Linked DNA regions of Homo sapiens: all the other regions are linked to region 2. The links come from fine-mapping of genetic effects on gene expression. A gene starts in region 2. Each other region holds a variant in brackets. All regions are shown on one strand. Distances are between the middles of the regions. Region 1 overlaps ADGRG3 (adhesion G protein-coupled receptor G3). Region 2 holds the start of ADGRG3 (adhesion G protein-coupled receptor G3). Region 3 holds the start of DRC7 (dynein regulatory complex subunit 7).

Region 1 (7,720 bases), 19 kb after region 2:
AAACTTTTTCTCTCTAATGTAAATGCCCATCTCTGAAGAGCTGCCCCTTACTGGTTTGGTCCGGATCTTGCCGGCCACGGGGTCCCTTTTTTATGTCACTTTTGTCTTGCCTGCTGAACCTCTGCTTTTCATCTCACTTCTTGCTCACCCGTCCCATTCACCGTGCTTCTATTCTCTGCTTTTACTTATTCTGCCCTTTATCCAACTTTTAATTCCCTTTGCTATTCTCCTGCCTCATTTTCTGGCCTCATTTTCCCTATTATCCTGCCTCACATTGATCAAGGGATGAGGCTGGCAGGATCCGGAACCCACAGGGCCCCGTGGGCCATGAGAGGCTCCTGGACTTGAACCTCAGGACACTCCCACTCTGGCTGCCGGCAGGGATGGAAGCTGGATGAGCAGGCAGGAGCTGGCAGTGGGGGTGGAGAGCCATAGGCTATTGGGGTGGACAGGCTTGGGTGCCTCATGGGAGCTCCCCATGGGAGCTGTGGCCCCTTGGGGCCTCTTATTTCTCACCCCAGGCTTTCCCGGGAGAGGTTCAAGTCAGAAGATGCCCCAAAGATCCACGTGGCCCTGGGTGGCAGCCTGTTCCTCCTGAATCTGGCCTTCTTGGTCAATGTGGGGAGTGGCTCAAAGGGGTCTGATGCTGCCTGCTGGGCCCGGGGGGCTGTCTTCCACTACTTCCTGCTCTGTGCCTTCACCTGGATGGGCCTTGAAGCCTTCCACCTCTACCTGCTCGCTGTCAGGGTCTTCAACACCTACTTCGGGCACTACTTCCTGAAGCTGAGCCTGGTGGGCTGGGGTAGGTGCTGCCTGGATGGACAGAATAAACGGCCGGCCCTGAGGGTGCAGAGGGAAATAGCCTTGGGGAGAGAGAGGAGGGGTTCCCAGAGCTGGAGGGATGGCCATCTGGAGGGGACGTGGAGGAGGAAGTGCCAGTAAGCCCCAGTGGTGTCATGCCATTTCCCCTTGTGCCCAGGCCTGCCCGCCCTGATGGTCATCGGCACTGGGAGTGCCAACAGCTACGGCCTCTACACCATCCGTGATAGGGAGAACCGCACCTCTCTGGAGCTGTGAGTGGCGGCTGTGGGAGCAGGGGTGATGCCAGCTCCCCGGCTACACATATTGGGGCTGGAGAGAGGTGGGGAGAGGAGGGATTTCTAGGAAAATCTAGACCAAATATGTCAAGACCAGAAGAATCCTCAGATCCAGCTAGCTCATGGCACAGAGAAGTAAACTGAAGCCTAGAGAGAGAGAGGGGAAGTGAAATGAGAGAGGGGGCCTGAGAAAGGAGAGGGAGAACTGGACCAGGAGGCAGGATGCCTTACTTGAGCCTGGGCCAACACGAGCCCACATGGCACCTTGAGGCAAAGTAAAGAAGGTCACCCCGTCCGCATGCGGGGTGCGCAGCCTGGAGAGTGGAGGGTGTGTTGGATTTCAGCCCCCACCTGCTGCCCAGCCAGGTGTCCTTGTTCAGGCCACCACCTGCCCAGTGATTCACAGTAGCCCTGGGTCTAGTCTGGGCTCTGCCCTGCCTGCTATGTGTGTGATCTTGGCAGGCCCGATCTCTCCCAGGGCCTCAGTCTCCTCATCTGCACCATGGGGGAACTGATCAACATGCTCTTTGAGGCCCTTTGCCCCTGCAGTGCAGAGGGCAGTGGAGCTGAGTTCAGTTTCTAGACTCACACCTTGGGATCCATGGGGCACCCACCACTGGGCCCATGGCTCTGTGCTAAGAGGAGCTGGTGAGGCCTTGGACCTGTCCCCAGGCCTCAAAAGCAGGGGCCCCAGGAGCTGGAGGGGTCACAAAGGTGCAGGCAGTGGGCCAGGTGGGGACTGCAGCGGACTGGCAGTCACAAGCCCATCTAATTAGCGGTCAGTTACTATCCTTCAGGAGGGCATCCACAGAGCTGCCAGGTGTATGATTTTATAGGAGAAGCAGAAATCTAGGTGTTTATACCAAAGCTTCTGATTTTAAAGGCGGCCACTAATTCCGTTTTTTTCACAATGTAATATGGGGCAAATGAAACATGTCTTTGAGGTCACTTTGGCATTAAAGAGACACCAGACTGGAGCCAGGTGACGGCCCCTCCCACAGCGGGAGAGCCAGGGATTGATGGGTGGAAATGGGAGAGGCACCTTCACAGACAGAAAAGCTCAGCCAGGGGACTTCCTGGGTTTGCTGGCCAGAGGTACCACTCCCAGTCCCACCACAGCTGCCCCCTCCTCCAGATGCTGGTTCCGTGAAGGGACAACCATGTACGCCCTCTATATCACCGTCCACGGCTACTTCCTCATCACCTTCCTCTTTGGCATGGTGGTCCTGGCCCTGGTGGTCTGGAAGATCTTCACCCTGTCCCGTGCTACAGCGGTCAAGGAGCGGGGGAAGAACCGGAAGAAGGTGCTCACCCTGCTGGGCCTCTCGAGCCTGGTGGGTGTGACATGGGGGTTGGCCATCTTCACCCCGTTGGGCCTCTCCACCGTCTACATCTTTGCACTTTTCAACTCCTTGCAAGGTGAGGCCCCTGCACCAGGGAGGTGATGGGCTGTGTTGTCTGTCCCAGGAGGTATTGGGAGGTGGGGAAGAGGGTGGTTTGCAAGACACAGGACTCTGTTCAGGCTAGCTGAAGTCAAGGATGTTGATTTCAAATACTCAGAGCAAGGATCCAGGGCAGCAAAGTTTGGCTGCTGTATTAGTCCGTTTGTGTTACTAGAATACAAAGGAATACTCGAGACTGGGTAATTTATAAAGAAAATGGGGTTAATTGGCTCATGGTTCTGCAGGCTTTAGACAAAGCACAACACCAGTATCTGCTCCTGGTGAGGCCTCAGGAAGCTTCCAATCATGGTGGAAGATAAAGGGGAGCCAGCGTATCACATGGCGAGAGTGGGAGCAAGGGAGTGGGGAGGCACCATGCCGTTTTAAACAGCGAGATCTCGCATGAACTCCAAGTGAGCACTCACTCATCACCAAGGGGATAGTGCTAAGCCATGCATGAGGATCCGCTCCAAGGATCCAATCTCCTCCCCTCAGGCCCCACCTCCAACATTGGGAATCACATTTGGACATGAGATTTGGAAGCAACAAACATCCCAGACATATCAGCTGCCTTCATGGGAGCTGCTACCAGAATCAGAAAAAGCCACCCAAACCAAAGCAGATACGTTCTCTATCTTTTTCCTGGAGCTATGGAGTCTCTCACCTAGTGTCTGTGGAAACTCCTTCATTCTCTCTCCACTTACCCTTTACTACCCATGGCCCCAAATTGTTACCCAACATGGCTGCCGTAACCCTACCTGACCTTGCAAGTTGGGTGTCCATCGTCCATCTCTGGTCCAATCAGCTGCGACCAGAAGGGCAGAATCATGTGATATGATGTCCACATGACATGGATGGGATCTCCAGGGATCTATGGAGGTAGGAAGGAAATGCTTGCTGTATTTGTTACTGGCCCCCGCAGGGCCCTTCCTCTGAGATCCCAGCAAAGGGGTAAGAGCAGTCCATGTGCTATGGTTTATATGTGTTCTCTTTGCTCCTTACATCCACAGCCCAGAGAGGCATCACAGTCTGACTGTGAGAGAAACAGCCAAGACAGGAGTGACGAGACTCAACCTGTTCAGGGAAGTCACTAGAAACCCAGGCGTCCTAGATGCAGCGGGTATAAGCCCCCAAGACCAGGACTGGCTCCCAGCGCCCCATGAGAGATGTGTGGCTTAGTGGCTAGGGCCAGGCAGCCCTGGGTCCAAATCCTAGCCCCATCCCTGACCCAGCAAGTCACTCAGCTCCTTCCGTCCTCATTCATCGCGAAATTGGGATAATCCCGTACTTATCTCACCAGCTTTTTTTTTTTTTTAATTGAGATGGAGTCTTGCTCTGTCACCCAGGCTGGAGTGCAGTGGCACGATCTCAGCTCACTGCGACCTCCACCTCCTGGGTTCAAGTAATTCTTCTGGTTTCAGCCTCCTGAGTAGCTGGAACTACAGGCACATGCCACCATGCCCAGCTAATTTTTGAATTTTTAGTAGAAATGGGGTTTCACCATACTGGTCAGGCTGGTCTCAAACTCCTGACCTCAGATGATCTACCTGCCTCAGCCTCCGAAAGTGCTGGGATTACAGGCGTGAGCCACTGTGCCTGGCCTGCCAGATTTCACAATGAACAATGACAATGCATATGTGGGAACTACTAGGTCTTCAATATGTGGGAACTATATTAATAATCATAGAAATTATGACTGTAAGGCCATCTGAGGCTGTCTCCAGGTGGAGAATCATGAGTCCATGCCTGGAGAATCCCAGGGGTTGATGGTTGGGGAGAAATGAACTTTGAAACTATAGCTGACATCGTTATTCTTTCAGAGGTTACCTTAATATGTAAGCCTGCACACTTCACTCTACTAAGTTTCCACTGGGTCTGAGTTATTCTGTATTTCTCTCTTCCTCTCCAATACAACAGAGCCCTTGGTATACTTGAATTGCCCATTGAACTCTTCTCAATATTTGTCTTGCATATAGAGGTTTAGTTACAGATTTCCTTGAAACATAGAGTTTTTCTAAGTCATGTTCTGTACTTACTATAATTTCTTTCACCCCACACTTTCCCTTTTCCTCTTGCTGGAGTGCCTCCCATAATAATCCTTTATAGAGGGAGTGATGGTTGTTTTGTATGTCTGAAAATTCCTCTATTTTGCTCTTTCTTTTCTGTAATAGGCATAGGTAGATATTTTATTTGAAGGTCTCTGTTTTTCATTTCCAAGATTTCGATTTGGTTCTTTTTTATTTCATTTTTGAAATGGTTGTGAAATGGTTGCATTTTTGCCTTTCCCAGCAGTTCTTGAGTGGTTACGGTGGGTCTCCTCCCTCTCAGCAGCCACCAGCCCAGGCTGCCCCACTCTCTGCCCACCCCTTTCCAGGCTCACCGAGGCCTCTCCTTCCTAACAGGTGTCTTCATCTGCTGCTGGTTCACCATCCTTTACCTCCCAAGTCAGAGCACCACAGTCTCCTCCTCTACTGCAAGATTGGACCAGGCCCACTCCGCATCTCAAGAATAGGAAGGCACGGCCCTGCAATATGGACTCAGCTCTGGCTCTCTGTGTGACCTTGGGCAGCTCCGTGCCTCTCTCTGTACTCCCTCAGTTTCCTTCTCTGTACAATGTGGCTGGGGAGGGAGAGGATGGGACCAGGTTGGACCACGTGGCATCAGAGGTCCCATCCAGATCCAACTATAGGTCCAAGAGTCCACGTAAGCAGGTTTGCAAGGCTCTAAAGTTCCTATAGTCCTGAGACCCCCTGCCAGCAAAGAGTGACAGTCACCTCCATGCCCTGCCCTCATTGCAAAGCCCTCACTCACCTTCTGGTCTCAGCAAGGGAGGAGAGTCTGTTGCTGGCATAGCCCTGGAAGGAGCCCCCAGCCTCTCCCCTCCTCCTCCTTGTCACTGGCCTCCCACAACTCCCCTTCTGGCTGCCTGTAACCTTGAGGGGCATTCAGGAGGCCAGCGTTCCCTCAGGCACTGGGGGTTTGTTTTGGGGGGTGGGAGTTGATC[C/T]TCCCACCCAGTCTGCCCCTGGTCTCTGCCCATCCAATCAGAGCCCACCCTCCTGGAAGAGACCCCCGTGTTCAGAGTGCTGGCAGCCCTGCACGTGTCCAGGGACACTGCATTTCAAAGAACCACTGAGTGGGTGAGCTACCTTGGGCAAACCCCCCACTCCTGACTCTGACTGCCACGTGGGTGGCCCGACCTCTGACCTGCTGTCATCGTAGAGGTAGAAAGCAAACAATCTGGGGCTCAGCACACCTGGGGGTGCTCCCACTCATTCAGTGTGTGGGGCCCCTGAGCAGAGGCTGGGCATTGCCACTAGGACCTGAGCTCCTAGAGAACAAGGACCTGGGTGGCCTCGCTTACTGTTCCAGCCCAGGCCAAGCACAGGGTCTGGCTCGTGGCAAACCTTGAATAAATATTTGTTGGCTGAATGAGTGGATGTATGAGTTTGGCACCAGCCTGGCAGATCCCTGAGCCAAGGGGGGTGTCTCAGGCCAGACCTAGGTTGGGCAGGGTACTTCCAGCAGCTGGGGCTCCATGTCACAATCGCATGCAGGTTTCTCAGTAGGAAACAAAAAGAGGCAGAGATAGCAGAGATGGGGTAGAGATACAGAGATGGAGAGAAGGAGAGAGAGACTTAACAGACAGGCTGACACAAAGAGGGAGAACGGTGGCGGAGAGACAGATGCAGAGAGATGGCAGCCCCACGCCGGCTCCAGCGACCCCCCTCCTCGGGGGGAGCAGTGAGTGTTGACATCATTCCCCTCCCTGGAGCCTCACCGCACAAGTCCATCCCTCACTCTACTCACAACTTACCAACCATTCTCCCTACCCGGCCCCCGACCCTCTCCAGGGAGCTCTGTGGACTGTCAAGCCCTGTCTGCAGGTGAGAAGTTACTGTCACTGTTAGGCCTCCCCCAACAGCCCTGGAAGCTGCGGGCTGCAGCCCACCTCCCCGTCCGGATGCTGGGTGCTGACGTTGACTGCAAATGGATGCGCTTCGCTTCCCCTCCCAGCCCACAAGCAGTTGAAAGACAGGAAGGTGGGCCCTCACTTTATGCAAGGCGCTGTGTTCCTGGAAGGGAAATTCTGGGGCGTGGACATTGCATCATTTGAGCCACAGGAGCAGTTCTGGTGGACAAACTTGGTGTGTTTTGGGGCTTATCTTCACAGACATCTGTTTCTCACACTGAAGGTCTCAACTTCCTTATCTCAAAGCCTCAGGGATGGTAACCTGAGAAACAGCTGTTCCACCATCTGATAGGTCTGGGCTTAAATCCTGGCTCGGCTACTTAGGAGCTGTGTGATCCTGGGCATTTTACTTCACCTCTCTGAGCCTCAGTTTCCCCATCCATAAAATGGGGATTATAAAGTCCTCACCTCATCCTGACAGCATTAAATGAAGTGACAGAAATAAAGTGCCCAGCACTGACTCCGCAGGAGTTAGTCAGCTCCCCCACCCTGCCTTGATTTAAAGAAAGACCAGCCAAGGGTAATGGCATGAGGAAATGGAGGTCCAGACAGGCCCAGCCACCTGCCCAACTAAGGTCACTCCATGGGCTGGGTTGAAGCTAGGGCCAGGCCTCCCCGGGTTGCCCTCATCCCAGAGTGGTCCCTGAGTTTAAGGATTATCACCTGGTCCTTGACTGGGCTTGGTGGCTCACACCTGTAGTCATAGCACTTTGGGAGGCCAAGGCAAGAGGATTGCTTGAGCCCAGGGGTTCGAGACCAGCCTGGGCAACATGGTGAAACCCCGTCTCTACTAAAATACAAAAAAAATTAGCTGGACATGGTGGCGTGCGCCTGCAGTCCCAGCTACTCAGGAGGCTGAGTCAGGAGAATTGCTTGAACCTGGGAGGTGGAGGTTGCAGTGAGCTGAGATTGTGCCACTGTACTCCAGCCTGGGCAACAGAGCAAGACTCTGTCTCTTAAAAAAAAAAAATATATCTAGGCATGGTAGCTACTTGGAAGAAGAAGCAGGAAGACCACTCGAGCCCAGCAGTTCAAGACTGCAGTGAGCTATGATGACGTAACTGCACTCCAGCCTGGATGACAAATCAAGACCATGTTTTTAAAAAAAAAAAGGAGGAGAAGAAGGAAGAGAAGGAAGGAGGAGAAGGAAGAGGAGGGAGAAGGAGGAGGAGGAGGAAGAAGGAGGGAGAAGGAGGAGGAGGAAGAAGGAG
Region 2 (5,000 bases):
GATCACGCAGGTTCCCATCTTCCCTGTGATGAGGGCAGTCACAACGGATCATTGCTACTGTGTTCAGGTAAGAGGTCCCAGTGCAGCCAAAGTCCTCCCCAAGGCCCACAGTCCACTCTCTCCCTTCTGCAGGCTCCTCCCTCCTCCCCTGGCCACTCTAGGGGGATGCCCAGCAGGGGAAGAGGCTCAGAGTCTTGGATTGGACAAGGTGGGTGTGAGGCAGCTGGGTCTAGACTGGCAGTGCCCTCTGAGGGGCGTGAATGTGGGATCTTGGGACCTGCAGGGACCAAGAACCCCTGTGCCCTGCTGCTCTCCCAGCCCTCCCTCCACCCCCTCCACTCCCTCCACTGACCTCTGTCCCCACCTTTCTGCAGGTGGGGGGCTCCTCTTATGCCCCCAGCTCCAAAGGACAGAGGCCAAACCTTCCCAAGCCTCCCCTACCCCAGTGTCCGGATTGGGCAGCCCCGGGGGATCAAAGCCAGCTTCCCTCCTTACAGGCTTCTAGGTCTCCGTGAGGGGGGTCTCTCAGAGCCCCATGGCTGGGCTAGGTCCTGGGATGGGGGTTGAGGCAACTCCCCCCATCTTCCAGAATGGGGGGGAAATGACCCAGCCCCGTTCCTCCGCAATTCTCCTGCTTCTCAAACATTTTGTTTCTGCATCTGAGGCTGGCTCAGGTAGTGGGGAGGGGTCTTGGGTTGGGTCTCACCTTCTCAGGTAGGCCCTGCACAGGGCACCAACAGTTCCATGCTGATCCTTTTACCCCGATGGTTATTATCATGCACTTTCCCAGGCTGTGGGGCTTTGGACAGTGGGATCGCCCTTTCTGCCAGCATGTGGCCAGGCGTGCATCTGGAAACATCCCTTTAGCTTGGGAAATGGATTGGAGCAGCTGAGGGCTGAATGCTGGCTGGGTCTCGCTGGAGGACTTGAGGCCCTGCCCACTGGAGCCATTGGGAGAAGCTGGGGCAGGAGGCGGCAGGAAGGGACACTACTGTTTTGTTGGCCCTGGGGTTGGGGGGGGTCTCAGGGTTCTGTGAGTGGCTCCAGGCTAGTCCCTGGTCCCCAGGGGGCGTTTCAGGGAAGGGGCCTTAGGAAAAGGTGGCCCTCCTTCCAGCCCTGCCTGACCTTCCCCTGCACCTGCCCTCTGCCCACTTCCCAGGTGGGCTGGCTGCTCGGAATCTCAGTCTGCTCACCCCCAGGCGCTTCTTCACACACTGGTACCTGCGAGCCTCTCTGAGGGCCCAGGTGCCAGGATGGGGCTTCAGCGATGGGCCCAGCACATCCAAGTCCACTGCCCCACCTCACCCTCACCTGCAGCTGGGAGGGAGGTCTGCAGATCTTCCAGGAGAAGGCTGGCCAGGTGTGGAGCAGTGGCAGGCCCAGCCATTCATCTGCCTTCGCAGCCCTCCCTGCAGAGGAAGTTTCTGGGGCTCAGGAAGCCCTGGGCTCTGACCTGCTGCTCCATGCTGAATTCCCACCTGCTCCCACACCATGAGTGACCCTGACATCCCCTCCCTACCCCTTCCCAGACCCAGAGGGCTCAGCAGGAGACACTGAGTGGGAGGAGGAGGAAATGGAGGCCAGCAGGGGCTGAGCGGCTCCCCAGTTCAATCCCAAGGCTGAGTAGGGCTAGTGCCAGCCCCGTGGGCCAGAGGGGGATGCCAGCAACCACACACCTTGGTGGGATGCCCTTCACCTTCCAATTGCCAAGTGGCCATGGCCTCATGCACAGTGCATCCGTGGGGCCTCCAGAGTTGGCCCGAGTGGCTGGCGCCCTAATTCCTTTAGGCTGAAGCCCAGGAGTGTTTGCCACCCCCACCTCCCACCTGATCAGTGACCATTTGGGGTGTAAAGACAACAATTTCACAGCTCTGATGATCAGAAATGATGTAATGGCCACAGGCGGCTCCGCCTGCGTCATCCATGATTTCATCACACACCTCGGGAGGCTCAGGGTGACAGACAGTGCATGCAAGGTCACCCGGCCAGGAAGTGGCCAGGATGGATGTTAGCTCAGGCCTGACCAGCCCCCGGGGCCGCACTGCTGTCTTCCCGCTACCCTGCCTCTGGGTCCGTCCTGTTATCCAGGCTGGTGGGGGAAGCTCAGGCTGCAGGGCCAGCTCCTGCTCTCCTCCCACACCCTCCAGCCTGGTTCAAGCCATAGGCACCATCTGGGTCTTCGTCCTCATGCCCAGAGCCAGGCTCTGTGCCCAGCTTGTTGCAGGTCTCATCAAACCCTGACACAGCCTTAGGAGGCAGCCCCATTGCCATCTTCACTTTACAGAGGAGGAAACTGAGGCTCAGAGAGGCTCCCAGCTTGTGAGAGGAGGGGTCTGAGTAGGTGCGCCTGACTCCAAAGCCTGTGCTCACCACAGTTCCCAGGGATCCGCTCTGAGCCAGGCCCCTGTGGCCACCCAGCCCCTAGCCCCGTAGATCCCACCCCAGTGGGGCCCCGGGGGCACATACCTGGGTGGGCTCAGCAGCTCCCTCTGCAGGTGGACCCAGGGTGCGGTGAGACTGGGAGCACTGCCCAGTTCCCCACACTCACCTTTCACAACCCAACCAATGGCGCCATCGAGCAGGAAGGGTGAGAAAGAGGACACAGGAAGCCAGAGTGGTGGGGCTGCAGGGTGGGGGCAGGCCAGCTCAGCAGAGCCTGGGGCCAGAGGGCCAGACAGCCACAGAGCTCCTGGCGTGGGCAAGGCTGGCCAAGGATGGCGACGCCCAGGGGCCTGGGGGCCCTGCTCCTGCTCCTCCTGCTCCCGACCTCAGGTGAGTGGCTGGCACCTCATCCCCTCCTGCCACGCTGGGCCGACCCTGCCCTGCCGAGGGAGGGATCCAGGGACAGACGCAGGGACTGGAGAAGGTGAGGAGTTGGGGTGTCTGGGATGTGTCCTCCGATACCCCCCGTGGCCGCCTCAGCACCTTCTCTAGCCCTGTCCCTTTGGGTCAGTCCTGTCCTTCCACTAAACCTTGCTCAGGACTGGTCTCAGGTTCCCTTTGTTGCTCCACAGTGCCCTGGAGATAGGGGAGGTCGGAGGGTGCTCCCTGACTCCCCAACCTGGGCTGTGTCTCCCTGACAGGCCTGGCTCTGAGACAGGGGTTGGCCCCGGGCAGGCAATTCTCCAGCTGGCTTGTGAGATCCTGGGGACGGGATTCAGACACTCTGGAAGCTGAGGCCAGGAAGGTCTGTCACCTCGTTCTTCTGGACCTCTCCTCCCGCACATGTCACCCCACACCGGCTCCCTCTCCCAGTCTCAGCCACAACCTCTTGGTCCTCAGTGGCCTGAGCCAGGATCCACACTCCTCCCCGTCACTCTCCCGTCTCACACACAAACACATGGTGCGTCTCCAGAGGCCATGGAAGTGCCCGGGCCTTGCCTTTGCTGGCCTCTCTCCCAGGAAAGCTGTCCCCCTACCCCTTGCCCACTTAGCCAGCTCCATTTACCCTTCTTGGCCTCTGTGGCGTCTTAGCAACCCTCTCGGACAGAGGGAGGTGCTCCCCCGTTAGTGCTCCCTCCTCAGTGCTCCTGTCTCAGGGCCTTGCAGGCCACTCTCTTTTTGCTCCTGACTCGGTGAGGGGCCTGCATGTCCATCTCCCTGTGTGTCCAGCGTGTGGTCGCGTGACTTTGGCCACATAGATCAACTTATTTGGTCTTCAAATAACCCTCTTCTTTTCAAACATTGGAAGATTCAGTGGAGTGAATCAGTCCCTGGCTCAAAAAAGGGTGGGAGATGACAGCACTGTCCTCCTAGTGGCCCCGGGAGGCCCTGGTACAGAGCAGGCCACCAGGCAGCCCTTGATAGATGAATGAACGGAGCCACCGATGGCAGCTGTGACCAGGGCTCATGGGCGTCCTCAGGTCCCAGCTGTCATCGCTGGTTGGGCCTTCAAGCCTCCTCCAGGTGATGCTGTTTCCCCCATGGTGATGTGGGTGCTCTGGTTGGGGCAGAGCAGCAGCCATTTGATTGAGCAAGGAGCTCTGAGAGGTCTACACACAGGAAGGTCTGCACACTTCCTGTGTGGACAGTGATGTGTTAGTCTCCATTCTCCATTTGCGCATTCATTCATTCATTCATTCATTCAGGAAGCATCGATGGTGCCCTCTGCTCCTGCTGGTACCACTTGGCCCCTGCCCTCAAAAGGCTCACAGTCTGCAGGAGTGACACAGTGTGGTGGGGGCTCGCATGTGAGACCCAGCTGTTAGGGCTGAGCAAGGGGTGGATGCAATGGAGGGCCTGGCATGAAGGGACACGTGACAAAGGTGCGGGCAGGGCACGGGGAGCAAGGAGGGTGGTCACTGGGCAGGCTGGCACCTGGGGCAGCCTTCAGCACCGTGAGGTCTAAAGGGGCCAGGAGGGAGTGGCCCCCTGGGCTTCTACAGCCAGACTGTGGCTACAGGAGGGAAATGGCGGTGGTTTGCTCACGGTGAGCCAGCAGGGGCTGAAGGAGCCATGCGGGGTGGGGGCAAATGCCCACTCTGCCCTCCTCCTGCCCTCTGACCTCCAGTCCACTTTCCACTTGCTGACCCCCAAATGAGGCAGTCCATGGAGGCCAGGCTCTGGAGCATAGAGGGTCTGGAGAGGAGGGGAGTGCTATCCCACCCACAGGCCTAGCACAGGGTCTCCTTGTCTACATGAAATGCTTGCAGTGTCTTCAAAGAATAAACACAGAAAAGATATTTAATGATCCTGTCTGTGTAGGGTGCTTGCCAAGAGCTTCACTTACATGCCTGCGCTGAAATTCATGGCAATCCGGGAGGGAGGCCTGCACCTGGACCCATTCATGACAGCAGGGCCGGGATGGCAGAGAATGGCACCCGTCCTCAAGCTGACAATGTTATCTCCCCTCCTCTCCTGTCCTCTTCCTTCCCCTCTCAACCCCTCCTCCCCTCTCCTCTCTTCCCTCTCCCTGTTTCTGTCTTCTTCCTCCTCTCCCTCTTCTCCCCTTTTTTAAAAAGCCAACATAGATCATACTATATTCATGCTCATCTATCATT
Region 3 (5,656 bases), 27 kb after region 2:
AGCAAGACCCTGTCTCTACAATAAAATAAAATAAGGGAAAAAAATAAATATTCTAATTTATTTTTTTTTGCTTCTCCAGAAACTTTTAAAATTGATATGGAGGCATATAGACCTCAAATAGCTAAGTCAATCTTAATGAAAGAGGGCATACAGGAGGTGGAGGTTGCAGTGAGTCGAGATCATGCCTGTGCACTCTAGCCTGGGCGACAGAGCTAGACCCTGTCTCAGAAAGAAAAAACAGAAAGAGGGGCATAGAAGGAAGACTTGACCTCTAGACATAAAGATATTACAAGGCCAGTTTGGTAAATGCAACGTGGTGTCTGTGCAGGGATAGGAAAGAAGATCAGTGGAACAGCACAGAGTGCTCAGAGGCAGACCCATGGACACCTGGGGGATTTAATACGTGACAAAGGTGGCATCATTATTTTCAGAGGAGGAAATACCTAAAACTAACACATTAGTTCATGAAGACACATTTAAAATCATTAGTCATCAGAGAGCTGCAGACTGAAATGACAATGAGACCTCATTGTATCCTTATTAAACTGATGAACTAGAAAGCTAGATGGTACCAATGGGCAGGGACGATATGGGAGCCAGGGAGAGTCTAGACTGCTTCAGCTGCCTGGAGAAAAACACAGTGCTTCTGCTGAGCCAGCAATCTTGCTACTGGTTGTTTATCTTGAAGAAACATTCTTCCAGATCTAGACCCCTCTAGACCTGTGTAGCATTGTCTGTGATGGAAGGGAGCTGGTAGCAAATCTGAGTGGTCTGTCCAGCCCACCCAATGTCTGCTGGGGAGTTCCCTCAAGACTGCCCCAAACCGTCAAGAGGTAGGGCCAGTTGGAATTCCAAAGAAATAAACACTAAGCGCCGGGGTGATCCGTATCCATCCAAAGCATTTATTAGGGAAACGTACATAGGGAAGGCTGTAGTGTTCTCATGACAGACAGCAAGAAGGGAGATGAGTCTGTTCATAACGAGGAGGTGGGTTTATGGAGTTTATATGAGTGTTTAAGGGATTCGGTTCAGGGCTGGGGCACGTTTAGCATTTGTTTGATCTTTCCATGTTTCCAGCAACAACCTAAACAACTATCAGTGCCTGGGGACATTGAAAGCTCCCTCTAGAACACCTGGACACCGAGTGCCCGTCACTGGAAGGACGAAGAGGTAATAAGTGTGGATCCACACAATAACGTGGAGAGATCTTAAAAACACAGCCCTTCATGAAAATATAAGAACCAGAAGGATATATTTGTTCAGTCTCATATTAAACATATATTAAAAACACCAGCATGCCAAACAATACTCATTTTGGAAAAAAAAAATACACATCAGAATGGTTACTTTATAGAGGTGGGAAATGAAAGTGGGTATGAAGAGAAAAAGGAATGAATAAATATGTAAAAGGAATGAAGTGTTGCATAGGGTTGAAAAAGGACAATGAAGCCTATGCTGCATCCCACTAGCATAACGCATCACCTGTTTTCCTTTCTCCTCCCTCCTCCCTTCCTGCCTTCATCCCAGCCAGTTCCCCACAGAGGTAATTACGAGTTGCTTAGCACCAAGTCTGAAATACTACACACACTGTCTCGTGAGCTCTCCACAGTGCAATTGATCCTTTAGCACCAAGTCTGAAATACTACACACACTGTCTCGTGAGCTCTCCACAGTGCAATTGATCCTTTACAGCTTATTTTTATGGCTGCATGATATTCCAGCTGGGAGGGGGAACATCATTCTCTATTCATGAGAATTGAGGCAATTCCTAAGTTTCTAGCAGTAACACTAACTGTGCAAACTTGTCAGCACAGTGACAGTCTGGATTCCCTCCTGGCAGCCCTATCCCCTGACCAAAAAAGGCCCATGCACCCCTCCCTCCAAAAATAAAACAGTGAAGATTATATTTTAGGACTGTATTGGTAAAAACACAGATATAATTCAGGGCAGATTCACACTTATATAGTCATTATTATTCTCATTTTTTTCTTCTGAATTTAAAAGAAATTAAACATTTTCATGAGCCACTAGCCTAATGGATAGGTTTTCCCCGTACTTCGAGGTAATGTTCTACATCACAGCTCCGGCCTGGACTAGAACCCAGGACTCAGTCAAGGCAGCCTGGTTCTGTCCACCGCAGCTGGCAGCTACTCCAGGCCCCACACTGGTTTCTGTCTGTCTCGATCAAGGCCACATTCGGCATGCCGTGGGGCAGGGGCTGTGCTGTGCTGGTAAATGTTTAACAACTGGCTGGCTCAGAGGAAAAGCCCTGGTCTTGGCGTTTGCTAATTTTTGTGGTGTAAATAACCCCATGGCCAATTTTTTTTTTTTTTTTTTTTAGAGAGGTTCTCACTATATATTGCCCAGGCTGGTTTTGAACTCATGGGCTCAAAGGATTCTCCCGCCCTGGCTTCCCAAAGTGCTGGGATTACAAGTGTGAGCCACCGTGCCCAGCCCTCTTAATTTTTAATAATGGCTGTGTTTCACAAAAATTTTGGAAAGTTTAACAACTATCAAGTTGATGCCCCACTATACCAGTGCACCGCTGGCAGAAGGACCCATGAAACCTGGGAAGACTACATTTCCCAGAAGCCTCCTCTCCCAGGACCGGCGTTCAGCTTCCCAGGTTGTTACCATGGAGATGGCTAACAGCTAGAGCAGGCTGTCCTCGGAGGGGTGAGGAGGGAGCAAGGGACTTGGGGTGGCTGGACCCTGTCTGGCAGGGAAAGGGTGAGGCTGGTGGCCCCCTTCTGCCTGGGGGCCTCCAGCCCTGATCTTTCTGGGGAAGTTGTTGGTGGGGTGTGTGTGCGTGTTTATGTGTGTTGGGAGGAGGAAGTTGCTGGTGGAGA[G/C]GGGGTGCAGGGAAGGGCCGGTGGGTTGGGGCAGAATCTAAGGAACCTTGAGATAAGACTGCCTTCCCCACACTGGGCTATAGCTGAAGAGGCCACCTGTGTAGGGAATAAAGTGCTGTGGGTTCTTCTCCCCAGCTCTGCCTCTGATGGTGTTCTGGGACTGACACGTCGGCTTCCTCTTCAGCCTACTTCTTTCCTTGCCCACCACTCCCCCACCCCCACCATCCCTTCTAGCACTTCCCCATCTCATATCTCTTCCAGCCTGAGACACACAGGTTTCACAACCAGAAATACAGGGGTTCAAATCCCAGACCTGCTACTTACTGGCTGTACCTTAAGCAGTGCACTTAACTTCTCTGGGCCCCAATCTTCTCATCTGCAAAGTGGGTGTCCTCAGTGTCTGCCTCATAGAGTCAGTAGAGGATAAGTGAGATGATCTCCGTACAACCCTCAGCACAGGTCTGACACACAGTAGGCATTCAGCAAACTGTAAATGCCTTGTAATGGTGATGACTGCCCTTCCTGGGCTCATTGTCTCTGGGACCAAGAGGCCAACAAATGGATCTGATCACTGAGAAGTGCTGCTTGGCTAGAGGTTCTCCCCTGAGGATCTGGGGTCCTGAATGGTGTTGGGCTACCTAGGCCTTGGGTGGCTTCCAGCCAGATGAGCATTCGTCCCCTCCTGAGTCCCAGAGCACAGAATGTCAGAATTGGACAGAAAATATCTGCCCTCCCTTCCTACTATAAAGAGAAACTAAGGCACAGAAAGGCGCAGACAGTGACCCAAGGGTCCAGCAGGAGCTACTGGCAAAGCCAGGGTTTCCCCAACCAGGCTCAGTCGTGGCTGGTGGCCAGGGACTCACCTCCCTAGGAGGCCGAGGTGGCCCATGTGGGTGTGGAGTTGGAAATTGGGGCCAGCCTTTATCTGCTGCTCCCTTCTGCCCTCTTGCTCCTGGCTTCACCCAGGGAAGTGGGGGATGATTAGAAAATCAAGGGGATTCTGCTTTTTTTCCTTACTACTCGCCCCCTTTGTCCTGTGGGTTTCGTTTGTTTTCCTCATCTCTGGACCCCCATTTGCCGTAAGGAAAACAGATGTTCGAGGACAGAAATGGAAAGACCCCAGCTGGGAGGCTGCAGATAGTGCATCAGCTGGGATGGCGTTGGGTGGTGTGGAACAGGGACCCCCATAGAAGCTGAGGTTTCTTATATAAGGAAAGGCTAGAGGTGGCACTCCAGGCCTCTGTGGCACTGCTGGGGACCCCAGCTCCCCCATCTCTCGGCCCTGCCGTCCATAGCAGGCAGCTTTAGCCCTCATGTGTGGCCACCTCATGGTCTCGCCTTGGCTGCCCCACCTCCCACTTTATCTCCACATTCCAGGTGGGAGGAGGAGAAGGGCAGAGGGCTCCCCAATCACTTCTGCCCACATCTCATTGGCCAGAACCGGGTCACATCGCAGGGCCACCTCTAGCTGCAAGAGAATCTGGGAAGCTGAGCAATTCAAACCAGGCACACTGCTGCCCCCCACACAACTGGGGTTCTGCCGTATAGAAGAGGAGACTGGATCTTTGGGTAGGTGACTAGCAGTCCCCGCTCAGTGTGGCTCTGCTCTGTGACCACAGGACATATGGTGAGCACATGTGGCGTCTCTGCGTGGATCACAGAATGAAGCCTGTTCTCTGGGCCAACACAGGCCTTGGCCAAGAGAGAGTAGGCTGTGTTACCCCCACCCCCCACTCCCTGTTTGTATGCCCTGGTGCAGGCACCTTCACTCTCTGTGCCTCGGTTCCCAGTTTGATCAGGTGAGATATCATTCACCTGCCATCCTCATTTTTGGGTGGGTTGTAGATCATATCACCTTACCGTTAGGATTTTCTTTAAACCAATCTATTTATTTATTATTTATTTGAGACAGAGTCTCACTCTGTCACCCAGGCTAGAGTGCAGTGGTGCGATCTCAACTTACTGCAACCTCTGCCTCCCAGGTTCAAGTGATTCTCCTGCCTCAGACTCCTGAGTAGCTGGGATTACAGGCGTGTGCCACCACGCCTGGCTAATTTTTGTATTTTTAGTAGAGACGGGGTTTCGCCATATTGGCCAGGCTGGTCTCGAACTTCTGACCTCAAGTGATCCACCTGCCTCGGCCTCCCAAAGTGCTGGGATCACAGGCATGAGCCACCGCACCCAGCCAATTCATTTATTTAAATAAGAAACTTGACAATACTATAGTAATCCCCACAGCATTCACAGTACTTGTCATTGATAACTGTCAGCTGGCACAATGGCTCATGCCTGTAATCCCAGCACTTTGGGAGGCCAAAGCAGGAAGATCGCTTGAGGCCAGGAGTTTGAGCCTGGGCAACATAGCCAGACCCTGTCTCTACCAAAAAAAAAAAATAGCCAGGTGTGGTGGTGTGCACCTGTGGTCTCAGCTACTGGGGAGGCTGAGGTGGGAGGATTGCTTGAGCCTGGGAGTTTGAAGCTGCGGTGAGCCATGATCGTGCTGCTGCACTCCAAGCCTGAGTGACAGAGCAAGACCCTGTCTCAAAAAAATAAAAAATTTAAAAAAAAAGATAACTGTCAAATATACTAAAAGCAAATCGACACGTGCCTTTCCCTGTCCTGTCCTGAGGATGGCTTCCAACCGGAGGCCTGCTTTGTCTTTGTTGTAAAGGAATATTTGCCAGGATTAGAAAGGTGTTACAGATGGGGTAGCACCAAACAGAGACTTTCTCCATGTTTGAAAGGAAGTCAAAGAGGGAATCACTCCCTATGTGTTCGACACCTCCTCAAAACCATCTCCCAGGCCT

What was found.
Region 1: its variant is fine-mapped to the expression of ADGRG3 in whole blood (TOPMed, PIP above 0.99).
Region 3: its variant is fine-mapped to the expression of ADGRG3 in whole blood (TOPMed, PIP above 0.99).

Annotation. Positions count from the first base shown.
Region 1 is chr16:57,683,411-57,691,130 of GRCh38, forward strand. ADGRG3 (adhesion G protein-coupled receptor G3) reads left to right here. Exons shown (of 12, transcript NM_170776.5): 9 at 522-802; 10 at 980-1,073; 11 at 2,233-2,516; 12 at 4,942-5,968. The coding sequence ends at 5,051. Among named protein-coding and RNA genes, the nearest start is that of DRC7, 7.5 kb to the right of the region's middle. RefSeq lists enhancers at 6,432-6,541, 6,682-6,731, 6,782-6,831. The variant C/T (reference allele first, on the strand shown) is at 5,544.
Region 2 is chr16:57,665,634-57,670,633 of GRCh38, forward strand. It overlaps ADGRG3 (adhesion G protein-coupled receptor G3), which reads left to right and starts at 2,673. Exons shown (of 12, transcript NM_170776.5): 1 at 2,673-2,772. The coding sequence starts at 2,715.
Region 3 is chr16:57,692,177-57,697,832 of GRCh38, forward strand. It overlaps DRC7 (dynein regulatory complex subunit 7), which reads left to right and starts at 2,630. Exons shown (of 19, transcript NM_001289162.2): 1 at 2,630-2,676; 2 at 4,288-4,418. The variant G/C (reference allele first, on the strand shown) is at 2,850.